Linked DNA regions of Homo sapiens: region 2 is linked to region 1. The links come from fine-mapping of genetic effects on gene expression. A gene starts in region 1. The other region holds a variant in brackets. All regions are shown on one strand. Distances are between the middles of the regions.

Region 1 (8,806 bases):
TCTGCATGATCTGGCCCCTGCACCCACTTCAATTTTGCTTGGCATTACTCTCCTCCTAATTCATCTTCCTTTCTTCCTGCTCTTTGAATGCACAGAGAGCCTTCTTAACATGCAGTCCCTCTATCTGAATCTCTTTTCACTGCTGTTTTTGTCCTGTGATTCCTGGCCCATCACATATTTGTCATATATCTATACTTCTCTCAGGCCTCTGTTCAAGTGTAGGTTTCCCAAGGTAGGCTGTCTGACCCTCAGTCTAAAGTAGGTCCTCCCATTTATGCTTTCATTGTATACTAAACTTCTTAGAATTTTGTATAACTTTGTCTTACTCATTTTTTATTGTCCACATCTGGCACAGTGACCAGCAGATAGTAGGTGATCTATAAATCTTTGTTGAGTGAAGAGATGAATATGAACACCTGACTATTTACAAAGCATTTTTATAAATATTTTCTCCAAGGCCAGATAAGCAGCAAGACCATCAGATTAAGCTCATTGCTTATTTCACTGTGAAAGTCAACACTATATATAATATAATATGATAAGTATTAAAAATTAGTAATTGTAGTAGTAGTAGCTGTAGTTTAGAAACACATTTGTATAAGGCAAAATTAAATATCTACCAGGATAAATTTTAAAACTGAAGCATTTAATTAAGAAATGACACCTGAAATTAATAAGCATAAGAAGTCTAGAAAGACGTGCATCAAAATGTTAATAGCTTTATCTCTAATGATGAGATTTCAGGTAGTTTTTATTATTTCCTTTCTCCTTTTATCTAAATTTCCTATCATTTTTTCTCTCAAAATTGGCATCTATTTGATAATATTAAAAACTTTAAATTTCTAGAAATATAGCAAAAATGTCAATAGGCTTTAACATATTAACAAACTTTATTTTTTTTAGCTCAATGGTCAGTTTTTACTATTATTATTTATTCTCAGTAGCTTTTAAGTCCACACTTTCTGGAAGCACTCTCTTCCTATCTTCTATGACACAACAATCTCCTTGTTTTCCTCCTTTCTCCATTTTCATGCTCTTTTGTGGCTTAATCCTTCTTTGCCCAAGTTTTAAATGTTGGACCTTCTCAGGCCTTATTTCTGAGCTCTTGTTATTTTGTGGGTACTCAAAAAGCTGGTGCACAAATTCAAATGAAAATTAAGGTATAGAAAGTTTCCTTGACACAAGAAATTTGTTTCACTTTTGCATTTCCTTTTTTTCTGGTCATAACGTTTATCTTTCTGCCTAGTCACCACTGGTAATGTTAATAGCTTATGTATTGTGCACAGCAGAAAGATTTGACTGCAATGGAAGGAAAATATAGCCACAAAGACTTGTGCAACTAGAGCCTGATTTCCTGCAACTATCACTCAGGCAGGTGACGGGTCACATGAAAGTCAAGGAGCATTCTGCTTTATAGTAGCCCAGAAGGTCGGGGATTGAAGGAGTAGTAGGGAAGGAGTAGAGCTGAAATAAGAGAAATGAATGACTAAATTATCATATTTGTCTTTCTTCTCATACAGTTGTTTCTTCATTTTTTTGAAACAACTTTTTAAAAATGTATGTGTAAAATTATTGTTAAGGTGTAACACTCATAAAATCAAATAGGCAAAAATAAGAAATAAAAATGGTCTGTAAACAGACCACTCCTAATATTTGGGTACCCTTTTACATTTTAATATTTACCTGAATTTTTATTCATAAAAATGAGATTTTTTTATGATGTTTTATAATTTTTTGATACATTTGTTTCATTTTTTCTAAGTTCATAATTCTAATAGATTATGATTTTATAAATATGAGCTGTGCAATATTTGCAGACCAATTTAACTTCACTAGGATACAAAATTTTGAAGATACTATATTTCAAATTGGATATGTTTATAGTTGGGTATGTTTTTAGTGTGGCATCGCAATTCTATAAACATATGAAGTAAGTTGCTCCTTTAAGCAAAACTCCCAATTAAAGAGAAAATTCCCTCATGAAAAATTCATATTCTCTCTTCTGCTATCTAGTGGCTATATTCTTAATTTTTAGGAAATGGAAATAGTGATAAATAAATTGTAACTGATTTGGATGAATTATTTTGAATAGGTATTTTTTAAGAGCAGAAATTAAAGTGAAATCTTTAGTTTCCAGTCCAAAAATATATCTAAAACTGTTAGAATTATTGAACTAGAAGCAATATCTAATTTACTCACATAAGCAGACCAATAATACTTAACTTGAAAATGTTTTTTACTTTAAATATATTCAGCCTTTTGAAAATCTGCATTTTTGAAATTTACTTTAAAATATATATGTGATAGTTTCTTAGCTTTTTAATTGTTTGTTTTTATAGTCATCACAATTAAACAAATAACATTTGTAAAATGTTTACTTTTAAGTGCTACCTTAAGGCAAATTTACATGGTAACATGAGAATTTTTTTTAACAAATTACTTTTTTGATTACTAAATAATTTGAGCAAAAATATATATTCACACTGAAAAGATATAATAATTTAACATTTGTAACTTTATTTTTATGTATTCCATACATTACACCAGAAATTAAGGTATTAAAAAGTAATAGTATGGCACAAATTGTGTATTAACTTCTTTAAGAATACCACACACATTTTGAAAAGTTATGGAAGGTAGAATAGAAATGGTTTCTGCAATTTTTCATTTTTCCTAAGTAAATTAATTATTGGGTAATATCATTTTTACACACATAAATGTTAAATTTAATTTTTAGGATGCCTGAAAATTCCCCCAAATACATTATTTTCTAAACATAAAAATATTATGCCCCAGCACAGTGGCTCATGCCTGGAATCCCAACACTTGGAGAGGCCGAGATGAGTGGATCACCTGAGGTCAGGAGTTTGAGACCAACCTGACCAACATGGTGAAACTCCATCTCTACTAAAAAATCCAAAAAAAATAGCCGGGCGTGGTGGTGGGCGCTTGTAATCCTAGCTACTCTGCAGGCTGAGGCAGGAGAATTGCTTGAACCCCAGAGGCGGAGGTTGCAGTGAGCCAACACATGCTGTAAATGTGTCACTCTGGCACTCAGACACTCTAGCCTGGGTGACAAGAGTGAAACTCTGTCTTAAAAAAAAAAAAAAAAAAAAAAAATATATATATATATATATATATGTATGTATATGTGTGTGTGTGTGTGTGTGTGTGTGTGTGTGTATGTATCAAATACATGATTGTTTCAAATCATTTAGGAACTTTAATTTTTCCCCATAAGTAGTTATATTTATTTAGGTAAATCCAATTACTATTTTGTTGAAATATAAGTTGTTGAGATGTTAGCAAATATAATAAATCCTTTTACATAAAATAAAATTAGTATTTGACAACTAAAAGAAGACAGTTAATTTGTTGAAAAATAAACGTAGAGATAAAAATGACTTTTTTTTTTCAATTATTTTGCTGTTTTACATCTATTTATAAAGAATTAATTTAAACACTTAATACTGAAAACCTTAATTGCTCACAGGTCACCTTTAGAAGGAAATCTGGCCTTACTTTATACACTGAGAGGCACAATTTGCCATGTAGCTTACCATTCTGTTGGAAGACTTGATCCCTTGACAGGAACTCTGCCAGCAGCTGGATATAGCTTCTGACCCAGTGTTGTGCCACTGGACATGGTTATTACAGTGTCCTATTTGCATATCCTATTTGCATATCCTGCAGCCAAGATTAATAATTCAAAAGCCCAGGAATAATTTATTCAGTCAAACCTCCCAGTCAGAGATGTTCATGCAGAGGAATTTTTGTGAGGCTTTTATTTTCACATTCACATTTATTTTATTTTCACATGCAGTTTTGCAATTGAATGACAAAAAACAAGTAACTCATTTCACAGGAAACACATTTACCAAATAGATTTTTAGAAAAACACTGTTGAACTTATTTTATCCACTACCAAAGCAACAGAGAAGCATTCCTTATTTTCATTTTATTTGCATATTTACACAATAAGAAGTGGTAAATACTGCTTATATTGGGAATACAGTTGCCTCTGCTTTTCTTCTTTTTTAAAATTAATTTTCTTAGTGAATTCTGTATTGAGAATATAATAACGAAACCTCTGTTTTCAATAACTTTGAGGGAACTATAAAACTGAAATTTTAAAGGGAAACCTGGATATATGCTATGTTGGTGTACTAGCAAAAAGATACTAGAGCTTCAAGTTATTTTCCATTTTATTTTCTGTGCTTAAAATCAAGAAACACATAAAAGATACATCAGATAGCTAGGGATTAGGGAGAGAGATGCTAAGTAAAATAACCTTAATAGATGGCAATTTATATATCCCAATCAATGCTCTGAAAAACATCTGGAAGTACATTACCACCATTTCAGACAGGAAGCACACCTGGCTTTTTCCAAGCATTATATTAGGTTTAGATTCAAGTAAACACTCAGTCTTCTTGATGTGAAGCATAGGGATTATACTAAGAAAGCCCATAATTGTGCAGGCAGCAGTAATTCAATTTAAATGCTATGTAAGTTGAATATTGAGTTAGCAATGACAGGCAGAAGCCCAAAAAGAAGCTCTGTTACAGGCATCCTCCTAACTAAGCATTTCTCCTCACCAATATCTGACAGCTTAAAAACTCAGGAACTCAAAATATATGTATGTATATATACACATACATATATACATACATATGTGTCTATATTACACACTTTATATACATGTGTAAAATATATTTATACATGTATGAATATTTATGTATACAAACATGTGCATTTACATGAAATAAAAATATCTATAATTTGTTGAGTTCTTGTGATGTGGCAGGCAGGTATTACACTAAGTACCTTTATGCATCAAATGCATATAGTAATCCTCTGAGGTTGTTATTATTTAAGATTTTTCTCATTTTGCAGATTAAAAAGCTAAGGTTCAGAGAGGTCAATTAACTTTCTCAAGATTGCAGAATCAATAACGGGAGGGACCAGAGCTTAAGCCTATGTACTTGGATTCTAAAAGCACCGACTCTGATTCTTGACTGCCTACAGAATTGAATGACAATACCCTTGTGCACAACAAAGTCTAAGAATTAATAACAGGTATTTTTCAGTAATGCAATTCTTTTCTACTTTTAGAAGGAAGAAAGGTTAAAACATTATTTTTGTCTATATTTTTAAAAGGGCAAAAAGCATTTGAATAACCAATGCCAGGCTTGTTAATTTTAGACATAAATTAACATGAACCCCTTCCAAGAAACAAAGACAAATGGATGTATTTCACAGGTTTCTGCCACCATTCTGATGGAAGAAAAGAGTAATTCCCCCTTTGTGGGGTGGTGGGAGTTCCCGAGAGCTTCCTCTTTCTTCGTCCCACTTCCTGACTACCATCTCACTCTGGCTGCTAAGACAAAAATTGGTCTATGCTTCTCCTTTTTCATAGAACACGTCATCTAGACTGTAGCCTGGTAGCCTTGTTTCCCTCCCAAGTCCTACTTCCTGTTTCCTCCGAATGCTCTCAGTTGAGATACTAGAGTGTTACTGGGAAAGACTTACTAAAAGGTCACGAGTATTTCTGCTACAAAGCTTTATGCAGGTCTGCAAAATGATAGCTGCACGGGAACAAGGCTGGATTCAGAATTATGACCCTGTGAGCAGGGTGGGTTTCATGGTATGCTACTGTGTAGTCTCACAGTGCTTCACACTCAAAAAAGATCACACAGTTGAGTTAATGCTCTACTGTCACATTCTTAATTAAAATGTTTCATAACTTCTTAACAAGGGACCCCATATATTTCTTTTGCACTGGGCTCTACTAAATATGTAGCCAGTTCTGCCTGTGAGAGTAGAAACCTCCTCAGAAACTATTTCTATTCAGTATAGCACATCAAATTTTGAGGGGGCAAAGTTTTTTTGTTTTGTCTTTTTTTTTTTTTTACATATAACATGTTGAGATGCACTGCTTGAGAATCAATGGAAGTTTGAAAGGCAGTGAAAGTTTGCAGTACTGGCCGGGCATGGTGACTCACACCTGTAATTTCAGTACTTTGGGAGACCAAGGCAGGCGGATCACTTGAGTCCAAGAATTGGAGACCAGCCTGGGCAAAGTGGCAAAACTCTGTCTCTACAAAAAATGCAAAAATTAGCTGGGGCATGGTGGTGCGTGCCTTTAGTTTCAGCTACTCGGGAGGCTTGAGGATGGCCTGAACCTGGGGAGGCCGAGGCTGCAGTGAGCCATGATTGTGCCACTGCCCTCCAACCTGGGAGACAGAGTGAGACCCTGTCTCAAAAAAAAAAAAAGTTAAGTACAACAATGAACACTTTTTAAAATATATATTTTTTAAAAGCTTGTAGTACTGTTTGCTAAGAGGTAGTATAACACAGTGTTTAAGAGCATAGGTCCTGGAGGCAAACTGCTTTGTTTCAAATATTGGCTTCACTACTCACTAGCTTTCAGTTTTTGTATTTGTAAAACAGGGATAATGAGAGTTACCAATCTTATGAATTGTTATGTATATAGCAGAAGTACATATGCTACATAGTATGAGGTACTAGTATATACGTACACTGTATAATATGAGGTACATATTAGTTGCTAAATAATTGTTGGCTATTACAGAAATTTATAATGAATGAGAGAAGACTTTCTCTAAAATAATAATGGTAATTCAGTGCCATTGATGTTAGAATACTTGCTGCCCAGAAATATCCATTTAAAAGGTCCTTATAAAAGCCAACATGATAAAAAGATTAGTGAGTTCTAATCCTGGCTTTGCCTTTTACTAGTTTGTGTGATCTTTGAAAAAAAATCACATAACCTGATTTCCTTGTTTGGAAAAGGGGAATAATAATTCCTACCCATCAAACTCATAATGTTCATAGTATCAAATTATATAATGTTTGAAAATGCAATGGGCTTGAAATTGAAGAGCAGTTCATGTAAACCAGGCAAACTAATCAGGAAATTCAAGAGGAAAAAGAAAATGGTGGGAAATATAATATAAATATTAATTAAATCCAATGCTAGTAATAACTTCTGCTGGGTCCGGTGGCTCACACCTATAATCCCAGCACTTTGGGAGGCCAAAGCAGGAGGGTCACTTGAGCTCAGGAATTCAAAACCAACCTGGGCAACATAGCAAGACCTCCTCTACTAAAAATCGAAAAAATTGGCTGGGAGTGGTGGAACACACCTGTAGTCCCAGCTACTCAGGTGGCTGAGGTGGGAGGATCACTTGAGCCCAGGATGTCAAGACTGTAATGAATTATGATGGCATCACTTTACTCCAGCCTGGGTGGCAGAGTGGGATCCTGTCTAAAAAAAATTAATAATAACTTCTACTAACATTTTTTCAGCATTCACTCTATAATAACACAGTGTATGCAGTGATTCTTTTAATATTCACAATAATTTAATGCAGTGGATATTATTAATATCACTCATTTTCAGTTGAAGAAATCAAGGCCTAATAAAGATTAAATAAATGATCCACAAATACACAGCTAATACATGATTTGGCTGTATAATTTGAAGCCTTATCTGTTTGACTCCTGAATCCAAACTCTTCTCCATTATTCTCCTGAGTCACTCATGGTAAAGATGAAAATATTAGATTGAAACATAAAATTATTGATATTGGAACATTTTTACCTTATATATGGCAATTTTATATAGTTTAGTAAAATAAATTTAAAACTAACACTAAATTTAATTATTAGTTATAAAACTTATTGATTATCAAATTTAATAATTTAAATCTTCCAACTTCCAAAAAGAATAGAACATTTTAGATAAAAATCAAACATGTTAAAAATAAATAGTTAAAGTATTTATAGAAAGATTCTCCTAGCAACGTCTCTGGGAATGTTTACAAGCCACATTTAACAGCCCAAAAAGTCTGTGTGGAAAACAAAACTGGTTTAAGGGTCATGCTAATCTTCAAGGGTCACAAGCAGAGAAAGAAGAGGGCAATTAATCTAATTCGAGGACTTTCTTCTAAACCCGTAAGGAGAAACAATAATAATAATAACAACCCCCAGAAGTTGAAACAAATCAAGATTATTGGGGAGGATATTTTGGTGTTTCTGGATAGATATAAGCAAGATTACATGGTTACTTCCTTTTTCAATGAATGGTTTCATGTAGCAAAATAATAAAGGACAAACAGCAAAAGGAAAAACACAGCAGAAGGTATTTGTGCATGTCTCAAAATTCTTCCGGCTTCTAGAAATCAATAAATTATATTAACCAAATTTACTTTACCACGGAAAATGGTCTATTCAAAATAGGCACTCAAGCAATCTACTTCCTTTTCCTATGAAAATCCTTGTCATTTAAGAGCTACATTATTAATGGAAATTTTTGCATTACTGACTTTTTTCTGATTATACAGTTAAGAAAAATATGTGTCATATCTATTGGTACTGGGCATAACTCAAAGGAATTGTTCTGCTAAATTAAAACACATTATTTGTTAAAAGCATCTGACTACAGCTAAAATATTCTAAGTTCCTTGAAGTACTAACAATTAACCTAGAAACACAGCAAATTCACCTTTTATCTTTCAGTTTATATGCAAATTCCACAGCTAATTCATTTTTGATAATATGTGCTGAACCTTAATCACAGGTGTTTCTCTATACAAATAATGTTGTTTTGTTTCCTTGAATAGAAATAGCGGTATATGAAATTCAGGCATTTGTGTACAATTAGAGACAGATTTCATTTCCTCTTTCTCTCTCTTTATCTTTTTATTTTTATTTACTTATTTATTTATTTTTGAGACAGGGTCTTGTTCTGTCACCCAGGCTGGAGTGCAGTAGCATGACC
Region 2 (8,806 bases), 60 kb before region 1:
TTGTATGTCTGTCTAGGTTTATGTGTACCTAAACTCCATTCCATAAACCATCTCACAAAAATGTTTCTGAAGCCCTCTCCTGCCTCCCACTTCCCACATTTCATGAAAAGATATGTGTGTGGAGGATGGTGGCTCTTCATAGGATTCTATTTAAGTGTTTCTGTCTTGAGACCAGTCACAAGGCTACTTTAGAAAGTAGAGCATTTTCTCAAGATGTTCCCCACATCAGTAACATTCTGTTTGAAGAAGAAAGTGCTTTTAGTTTATCGGAGAGATTATAGATACTTTTTACCAGTGAAAAGAGCCAAAAAATATTTTGATGATTGTGAACCAGGATAAGAAAAAAAGACTTCTATGTTCTATTAAAGGAGGAAGTAGAAGTGGAAACCAGTTATTGTGTGTATGGCGTGTGATGTGTCAGGTCAGGTAGCGGTCAGTCACAAGGTGCCTCACTTCTGGATGTCTGTTCCTCTTGTTTCATTCAGCATCTATTCTTTTTTTATTTCTTCAGTTATATCCAATTCAGCTAAATGAAAATGTTCAAACCATCTCTCACCCCCCTCACCCCATATACAACTAAGGTGGACAAAGAACAGATCACCCAGGGTTTCTTTTCAAGGCACAGAAGATACAGTGGGTCTTCAAATGGCCACTGAGGTGACTCTAGCATCTTTCAGTTAAAGACTCTCCATTTTTTCGGTTTCTCAGAGACTGGATGAGATAGAAACTACAGAGATAATAAGAACATTTAAATTCTGTGTATTGTTTAAAGATTATACAAAAGTAGTCATACTTTTTTTACTTAATATATAGAAATTTAGATAGATATATATAACACTCTCCCTTTTTAAAATATTTTATTTTTAATTATTATGAATACATAATAGTTGTACATATTTACCCTCCCTTTGAATTTTGATTTGTCAAGGAGATCTTGGGCTTTATTCTTCTCTTATGTGATTCACCTACAACTTGTTATCAGTCAATAGGTGGCTTACCATGCCTGGATAGGGCATCCTTGCCTGAATAGAGTCTAAACTGTGCAAATAAAAATTATAAATCAAAGATATGAGGGTATATTCTATTCAAACATATAACTGTACAAAAAGCAAATACATTTTTTCCTGTAAAAGTGCAGTGTAGTTGCCTTTTATGTGTATTTGACTTGCATAAATTTTTGTTACTACAAAATAACTTAAAAGTCTATTTATAAATTTTAAAATAATGTTAATTTGAAAATGATAGTGAATTATAATTGTGTTTGTACTGTTGCCCACAGTGGCACCACTATAAGTGTCAGACAGAAATACTGGCTCTGCTCTAACGAAGTAAGTCTTGGATTTTGCAAGTATTTATTATGCAAGAGTTTCAGAGATGTATATATTGCATAAAGTGTGGTGAATGTGACCAACTTGAAATTACACGATCTTTGTGAAAAGTTCAGACAATTCAAACATATAAAAAGGAGAAAGTAAAAACCCTCTGCTAAGCCACTAAGAAATACAATTATTGTCGCTAATTTTTTAAAACTCGCTAAAAGAGTTAAGCAAAATATTGACATACTTGTCTTATGACACAAAATTATAGTAAGATTAGAAGAAATACTGACATCAGTTAAACAATTTACACTTAAATGCTAATGCTCCATAACTATTGCTTATTTTGATTTATCTCCATCGTCACTCCCACTGTTAGATTTGAATAAAACACAACTCCCTGGATGCCTTCAGCCATGGAGTAGTCCTCAATCCTTTCATTCTCCTAAATACAAGGTCTTTTCTGCTATACTTCCAAAATACACCTCCACTTCTCCCGCTTCACCCCATGTCTGCCTCCACTGTTTTTGTCTAGTCCTCCATCACATTGCACTAGAGCCAAAGCCTCCTGAATAATCTCCTTCCATCTGCCTCTGCCCCTCTAACATTGCCTCTCCATTCAAAAGCCAACAGTGTTAATTAATGGTTGGGTTCATTTATCCAAGCATTCAAGGCCTTGAACCTATTTTGTGCCCAGCACTTTTTGAGGCACTAGAGACACATTCGTGAACAAAACAAAGTTCCTCTTCTCTTGCAACAACTTGTAGGTCCTGGAACTTCTCAGGCTTTCTTGGGCCTACAAGCTCTTGCTTGGGCCATTCCTTCTGCCCAGAATGCCTTTTCCTTTATTTCTTTACATGGCTTACTTGCACTAGTTCTTCAAGATTTAGCAAAATGGTCACATCTTTAAGGAAGACTTCTGTGACCCCCATCGTACCCCCTCAAGTCTGGGTTAAGTGCACATCTCTCTGCTTTCAGTTTCTTGTGCATTCCTGTTTCTCAGCACTCCCCCATACTGTATTATCATAGTGAATTACCTTCCTGTCTTCATGCATTAGACTGTGAAATCTTCCTAGGAAGGAACTCTGTGTTTCCAATCTTGTTTATTGTATCATTACCCTGTGACTCAACTTATCAGTTATTGGAATATGGTTGAGAAAAAGGGCCAGAGAATTTCAATTCAGCATCATAGAGTTATGAGGCAGAAATAATATATATAATGAAGAGTCTCAGCTTCAGAAATCTATTCTGGGCTTTTCCTTTTGTACCTTCTGAAAGGGTTTTAGAATTTGGTTGGTTGTGGATGACCCTATTTAAGGCAGGGGTCACGTAAGAGGGAACAGGTTTGCAGAGACTCAGAGACTGAAAATAAACATAGCTAATAGTGAACACAATTTTTTTTTTTAACATGGAGTCTTACTCTGTCACCCAGGCTGGAGTGCAGTGGCATGATCTCGGCTCACTGCAACCTCCACCTCCCAGGTTCAAGCAATTCTCCTGCCTCAGCCTCCCGAGTAGCTGGGACTACAAGCACTTGCCACCACGCATGGTTAATTTTTTGTATTTTTTTTAGTAGAGATTTAGTTTCACCATGTTAGCCAGGATGGTCTTGATCTCCTGACCTTGTGATCCACCTGGCTCAGCCTCCCAAAGTGTTGGGATTACAGGCGTGAGCCACTGTGCCAGGCCTGAACCCATTTTTAATGTTCCAACTGTGTGATTCTCTGCAAATTACATGAAAGCAAGACTAATACTTTTCATGACTATCCCAATAACTGATATCTAGATCATGCAATACCTAGTTGATTTTTCTACAGGCAGATGAAAATGTGGTGTGATGGCAGTGGTGAGTTATATCCATGAAGTGTGAGCTCTTACTTATTTCATTCACTGGCAATTTTCTGACTCTTCTTGAAGTTTGGGCTCATGTTAGGCCTATTCATCTTCATCTTTCCTGTTTCTCCAGGCATAGGAATGTGGTAGGGTGTGTTAGGCAGTGGTTTACATTCAAACAAAATTGGTCTGATCTCTTAGAGAATATGTTTTTCTGAGATTCTATCTGCAGAAAGAACATTAAATCCACATGTGTTGTTTTTCTCTTGTTGCCATTGACATTCAGCAGTCAACATCTGGTCTGTTTTTAGTTTTTTAAAATTTTTTTCTTTCTTTTTGTTTTAATGCAGCTTTTTTAGTTTTCTAAACTTACCCCAGATGCAAAGACTGTCTAAATGCTAACCTTTTCTCCAGGGCTTTATTTTGTAGTGTTGATGACTCAGCAAATGATTATTATCACTTTCCTCTGTAAAATGAAGGATGACAATCCTTACGTTCTCTTATGCATTTCTAAAGATGAATTGATTGCGTAAAACAAAATGCTTTAAAATTTAATTTTATGCTTTTCTAATTAATTAAAGGGGTACTTTAAAAATAATGGAAAAAAACCTGGCTTAAGGTATCAGAACAATAACATATTCTTCATATGGGCTCAGAATGAATTGGCTTGACTTTGCAAAAGTCAAGGGATTTTTTCTGCCAGTGCTGAGTTCGTTCACCTTCTTAATCTTGGTTTGAAATGTGCAATATTATGTGTAGAGTGGAGACTGGGGATCCCAGAACAGAACAGAATATCCCTTTGAGTTTTTTTTTTTCTTTTTTTTTTAAATTTTGCTCTGTCACCCAGGCTGGAGTGCAGTGGCGCAATCTTGGCTCACTGCAACCTCTGCCTCACAGGTTCAAGCGGTTATCCTGCCTCAGCCTCCCTATAGCAGGGATTACAGGTACGTGCCACCATGCCTGGCTAATGTTTGTATTTTTAGTAGAGAC[G/A]GGGTTTCACCATATTGGCCAGGCTGGTCTTGAACTCCTGATCTTAAGTGATCCACCCGCCTTGGCCTCCCAAAGTGCTGAAATTATAGGCGTTAGCCACCGTGCCCGGCCCTTTGAGATTTAATATAAAGAATTAAAGATTAATATTAAGACTTGCCTTAGAGTGACTCATGGATTCAATAGTCGTCTCCTTCTAAAATAAAATAACCCTAGGTTTTTTAGAGGGAAATGATTAGAGGTTCTGACTAACCAAGTTTCAATTCAAAAGGGCCAAAATTTACTTTTTAACCTCAAGCCAAATGAACTTCTTGAATCTCAGCCGATTTTATTTTATAACTGGAAAGTACCGGGACCACCCTGAAAAAACAGATGATAATTTGCCTTTAAAGAAAAAAGGTTTATTAAATAAATATTGATTTCCAGGAGAAAAGCTCAAGACACAGATGTCCACACCCAACAACTAGCTAATCTACTTTAAATGCCAAAGATGAATACAAAAAAAGAAAAAGAAAAAGAAACTACAACTTTTATCTGCAATTTGACAGGTACATGAAATACTTTGACCAAATTTTAGTTGCCTGGAGCTTAGGTTCCAAATGCTTTACTTCTTTAGTTTAAAATATTTAATGAATTTTTAATTAAAATATTTGAATATAAAGTGCTATTTAAATAATTTTTTTTAGTGTTCTCATTCTCCTTTCCCTATGACTAATGATTGAGGAAATAGTCATTTTCACTCAAATATTATTTGAAGCTAGTTGTCTCCTTTACCTCAAAAATTAGCATTAACACTGCTGACTATTCACACCTTTTTCTTGTCATTTTTCATTAAGAACATTTAGCCTGAGAAGGCACAAGAGAAAATGTAAGATGATCTGCAGAGTGTTTGTACTTCAAGTTGATGTGTAATCTTTTCAAATGTTTTAATGTTAATATGTAAATAAATAATTCCCTGCATACATTTACTAATTTACATCAGAATATTTTAGAATTTTATTCTATGAAGCTGATTTGTTTATGCAGTGTTGTGAAATTGGTATTAATATACTAATGAGTAAGACCTAGTATGTACTGACTGATTGCTCCTATTGGTAAATTTTATATTTGGGGAAAATATAGTCAGGTGAAATACGTTTTGATAATAAGGTTGAGTTTTTCTCAGAAAATTAAAACAATGTTATCGAAAGATTTACTTACAAAACACCTTATTATCCAGATGTCAGATCCATAAATACTATAGAGATGTGAAAGTTATTCCCCTTACTCCCTAATAATGAAGGACCCCTCAGTAACTATGTAGTTGGTTATCTTTTTAAAGGGTTGAGTGGCAAGAATTGTCAGTGAATGTTGACTTCATTTTTCTCACTTTGCTTTCGGTGATAAGATGCCTTTTAAAGCAAACACTATTCAAAATTTGAGACAGAGTAAAATTATTAAGTCTGGTCTTCCAAATCATGTTCTCTCTATGAAAATATAGAGTCACAGGACTCCTGGCCCTGTGTTTTTATGAGTCATAGGATTTCTATGGTGAAAAATAAAAGATGAATAAACCTAAGATCTGAGAAAAATAAAAAGAACCCCTTCAATACAATGTTATGTCATGACCAGGCTCTCTGTTTTTGATATATGTATGTGTGTGTTTATAAAGAAAATTTTTCAAAAAATTATTTTGTCTCATCTTCAGAGCTTCTTGGGTTTGTAAAAAATTAGATTAGAGGAAGTAGCTGGCAAGTTAGGCATTAGAAACCAAAGCCTGCCAGTGCCAGACCAGGCATGGTGGCTCACACCTGTAATCCCAGCACTTTGGGCGAAGGTGAGAGGATCACTTGAGGCCAGGAGTTTGAGATCAGCCTAGGCAACACAGCATGACCTTGTATCTATAAAATATTAAATGAAAAAATATTTCCAGGTGTGGTGGTGCACGCCTGTAGTGCTAGCTACTGGGGAGGCTGAAGCAGGAGAATTGTTTCAGGAGTTTGAGGCTGCAGTGAGCTATGGCCATGCCACTGCACTCCAGCCTGGTTGACACAACAAAACCCTAGCCCTTAATTAAAAAAAAAACAAAAAAACAAAAAAGCCTGCCAGATGATGCCTATGATTTCAATGAAAATGACAACAGGAGTAACCTTAATGATGCAGAAACAATACAGTCCTGGCTTACCAAGTGCTCTTGTATCCACTTTGCTTTAACAGAGCAAATTTTTATGAATGAATCCAGATGGCTACTCCAGTTGCCTTCCAGCATATGGACAAAGGTGAGAGTGATTTTTTCTGATATGATATTCTGCTTTCTAGTTGGTGACAAATATTTTACCCCTTGAGATGAATTTTAAAATCTTTCCCTTGGCCAGGTGCGGTGGCTCACGCCTGTAATCCTAGCACTTTGGGAGGCCGAGGTGGGCAGATTGACTGAGTTCAGGAGTTTGAGACCAGCCTGGGCAACACGGTGAAACTCCATTTCTACTAAAAAAGAAAAAATTAGCCAGGCGTGGCGGCGTGCACTGATAGTGCCAGCTACTCGGGAGGCTGAAGCAGGAGAATTGCGAGACTCCATTTCCAAAACAAACAAACAAACAAACAAACAAAAAAACCCATTTCCCTTTCTGGATCAGAGCACAAATGATACAATTTTTAAAAAATACCTTGGTTTTCTTTCTTGTCTGTTTGCACAAACCTGCTTTCAACCTCATGATTGTTTCTTCCAATTGAGATCTGATTGGCAAAGCCACAGACTAAGCCACCTAGTCTCCCCCTTTGATACTGTCATGTTTTAGTTAGAGAATATCAAAAAAGAAGGGACCTTAAGATCACTTGGTCCAACCCCTCATTTGTAAGACAATGAAACAGGAGCAGAGAGGTGAAGGGTCCTGTTCAAGGTAACATGGCAAAGTAGTAACAGGTTTGGTTTAGATGTAGCAGAGGGGCTCTTTCTTCTACATTCTTTGGGTTGTGCAGCTTCTTCCTTTTTTTTAACTGTTTATTATATAAATGTTGTTTAAAAGTGGCCATTTTTTCCTTTTCTAACTGAATAATATAAACATGATATGTTAGGCTGATATCACTGGTGGTGGTGGCTGCCTATCACATGCAGTCCCTTCCTTTCTTGGGCAAGGAATGGGGTAAGGAATTATCCATTACTTTCGGTGTCCACAAAAGTAAGAAATGATGGGCGCTTGCTTTTGCAGATTTTGCAGTACCGAGGATAAAGGCATATAACCTGCCAGGAAATCCACTCTAGAGCAAGTGATGCAAAGATACAGGGACAAAGGAGATTTTTGTCCCAGTGCAGGTAGCAGAGACAAGAGTTCCAGAGTCTGAACAGTGCTGGTGACAGCGCTAATGACAGGCAATGTCCGGGGTTGGTAGGGGCAATACCTGGTATTCTGCAGTGCGGCCATAATGTTTCCGGAATTGGTGGGTTCTTGGTCTCACTGACTTCGAGAATAAAGCCGCGGACCCTCGCGGTGAGTGTTACAGCTCTTCAGGTGGCGCATCTGCGTCTGGAGTTTGTTCCTTCTGATGTTCGGATGTGTTCGGAGTTTCTTCCTTCTGGTGGGTTCTGTGGTCTCGCTGGCTCAGGAGTGAAGCTGCAGACCTTCGCGGTGAGTGTCACAGCTCATAAAGGCAGTGCGGCCCCAAAGACTGAGCAGCAGCAAGATTTATTGCAAAGAGTGAAAGAACAAAGCTTCCACAGTGTGGAAGGGGACCCGAGCGGGTTGCCACTGCTGGATGGGGCAACCTGCTTTTATTCTCTTATCTGGCCCCACCCACATCCTGCTGATTGGTAGAGCCCAGTGGTCTGTTTTGACAGGGCGCTGATTTGGTGCGTTTACAATCCCTGAGCTAGACACAAAGGTTCTACACGTCCCCACCAGATTAGCTAGATACAGAGTGTCCACGCAAAGGTTCTCCAAGGCCCCACCAGAGTAGCTAGATGCAGAGTGTCGATTGGTGCATTCACAAACCCTGAGCTAGACACAGGGTGCTGATTGGTGTGTTTACAAACTCTGAGCTAGACACAGAGTGCAGATTGGTGTATTTACAATCCCTGAGCTAGACACAAAGGTTCTCCAAGGCCCCACCAGAGTAGCTAGACACAGAGTGTTGATTGGTGCATTCACAAACCCTGAGCTAGACACAGGGTGCTGATTGGTGTGTTTACAAACCTTGAGCTAGATACAGAGTGCTGATTGGTGTATTTACAATCCCGGAGCTAGACATAAAGGTTCTCCACGTCCCCACCAGACTCAGGAGCCCAGCTGGCTTCACCCAGTGGATCCCGCACCGGAGCTGCAGGTGGAGCTGCCTGCCAGTCCCGCGCCGTGCGCTCGCACTCCTCAGCCCTTGGGTGGTCGATGGGACTGGGCGCCGTGGAGCAGGGGGTGGCACTTGTCTGGGAGGCTCGGGGCCGCACAGGAGCCCATGGAGGGGGTGGGAGGCTCAGGCATGGCGGGCTGCCGGTCCCGAGCCCTGCCCTGCGGGAAGGCAGGTAAGGCCCGGTGAGAAATCGAGCGCAGCGCCGGTGGGCTGGCACTGCCGGGGAACCCAGTACACCCTCCGCAGCCGCTGGCCCGGGTGCTAAGCCCCTCATTGCCCGGGGTCGGCGGGGCCCGCCCGCTGCTCCGGGGGCGGGGCCCGCCAAGCCCACGCCCACCCGGAACTCCAGA

The links. PIP is the estimated chance that this variant, and not a neighbour inherited with it, causes the effect.
Region 2: its variant is fine-mapped to the expression of SUCNR1 in whole blood (TOPMed, PIP 0.97).

Annotation. Positions count from the first base shown.
Region 1 is chr3:151,868,461-151,877,266 of GRCh38, reverse strand. SUCNR1 (succinate receptor 1) reads right to left here and starts at 3,624. Exons shown (of 3, transcript NM_033050.6): 1 at 3,561-3,624. The region is part of intron 1 of AADACL2-AS1 (AADACL2 antisense RNA 1); the gene reads left to right.
Region 2 is chr3:151,928,203-151,937,008 of GRCh38, reverse strand. It overlaps LOC107986047 (a long non-coding RNA gene), which reads left to right. Exons shown (of 3, transcript XR_001740567.1): 2 at 4,563-4,684; 3 at 6,333-6,457. Among named protein-coding and RNA genes, the nearest start is that of AADACL2-AS1, 4.4 kb to the right of the region's middle. The variant G/A (reference allele first, on the strand shown) is at 4,140.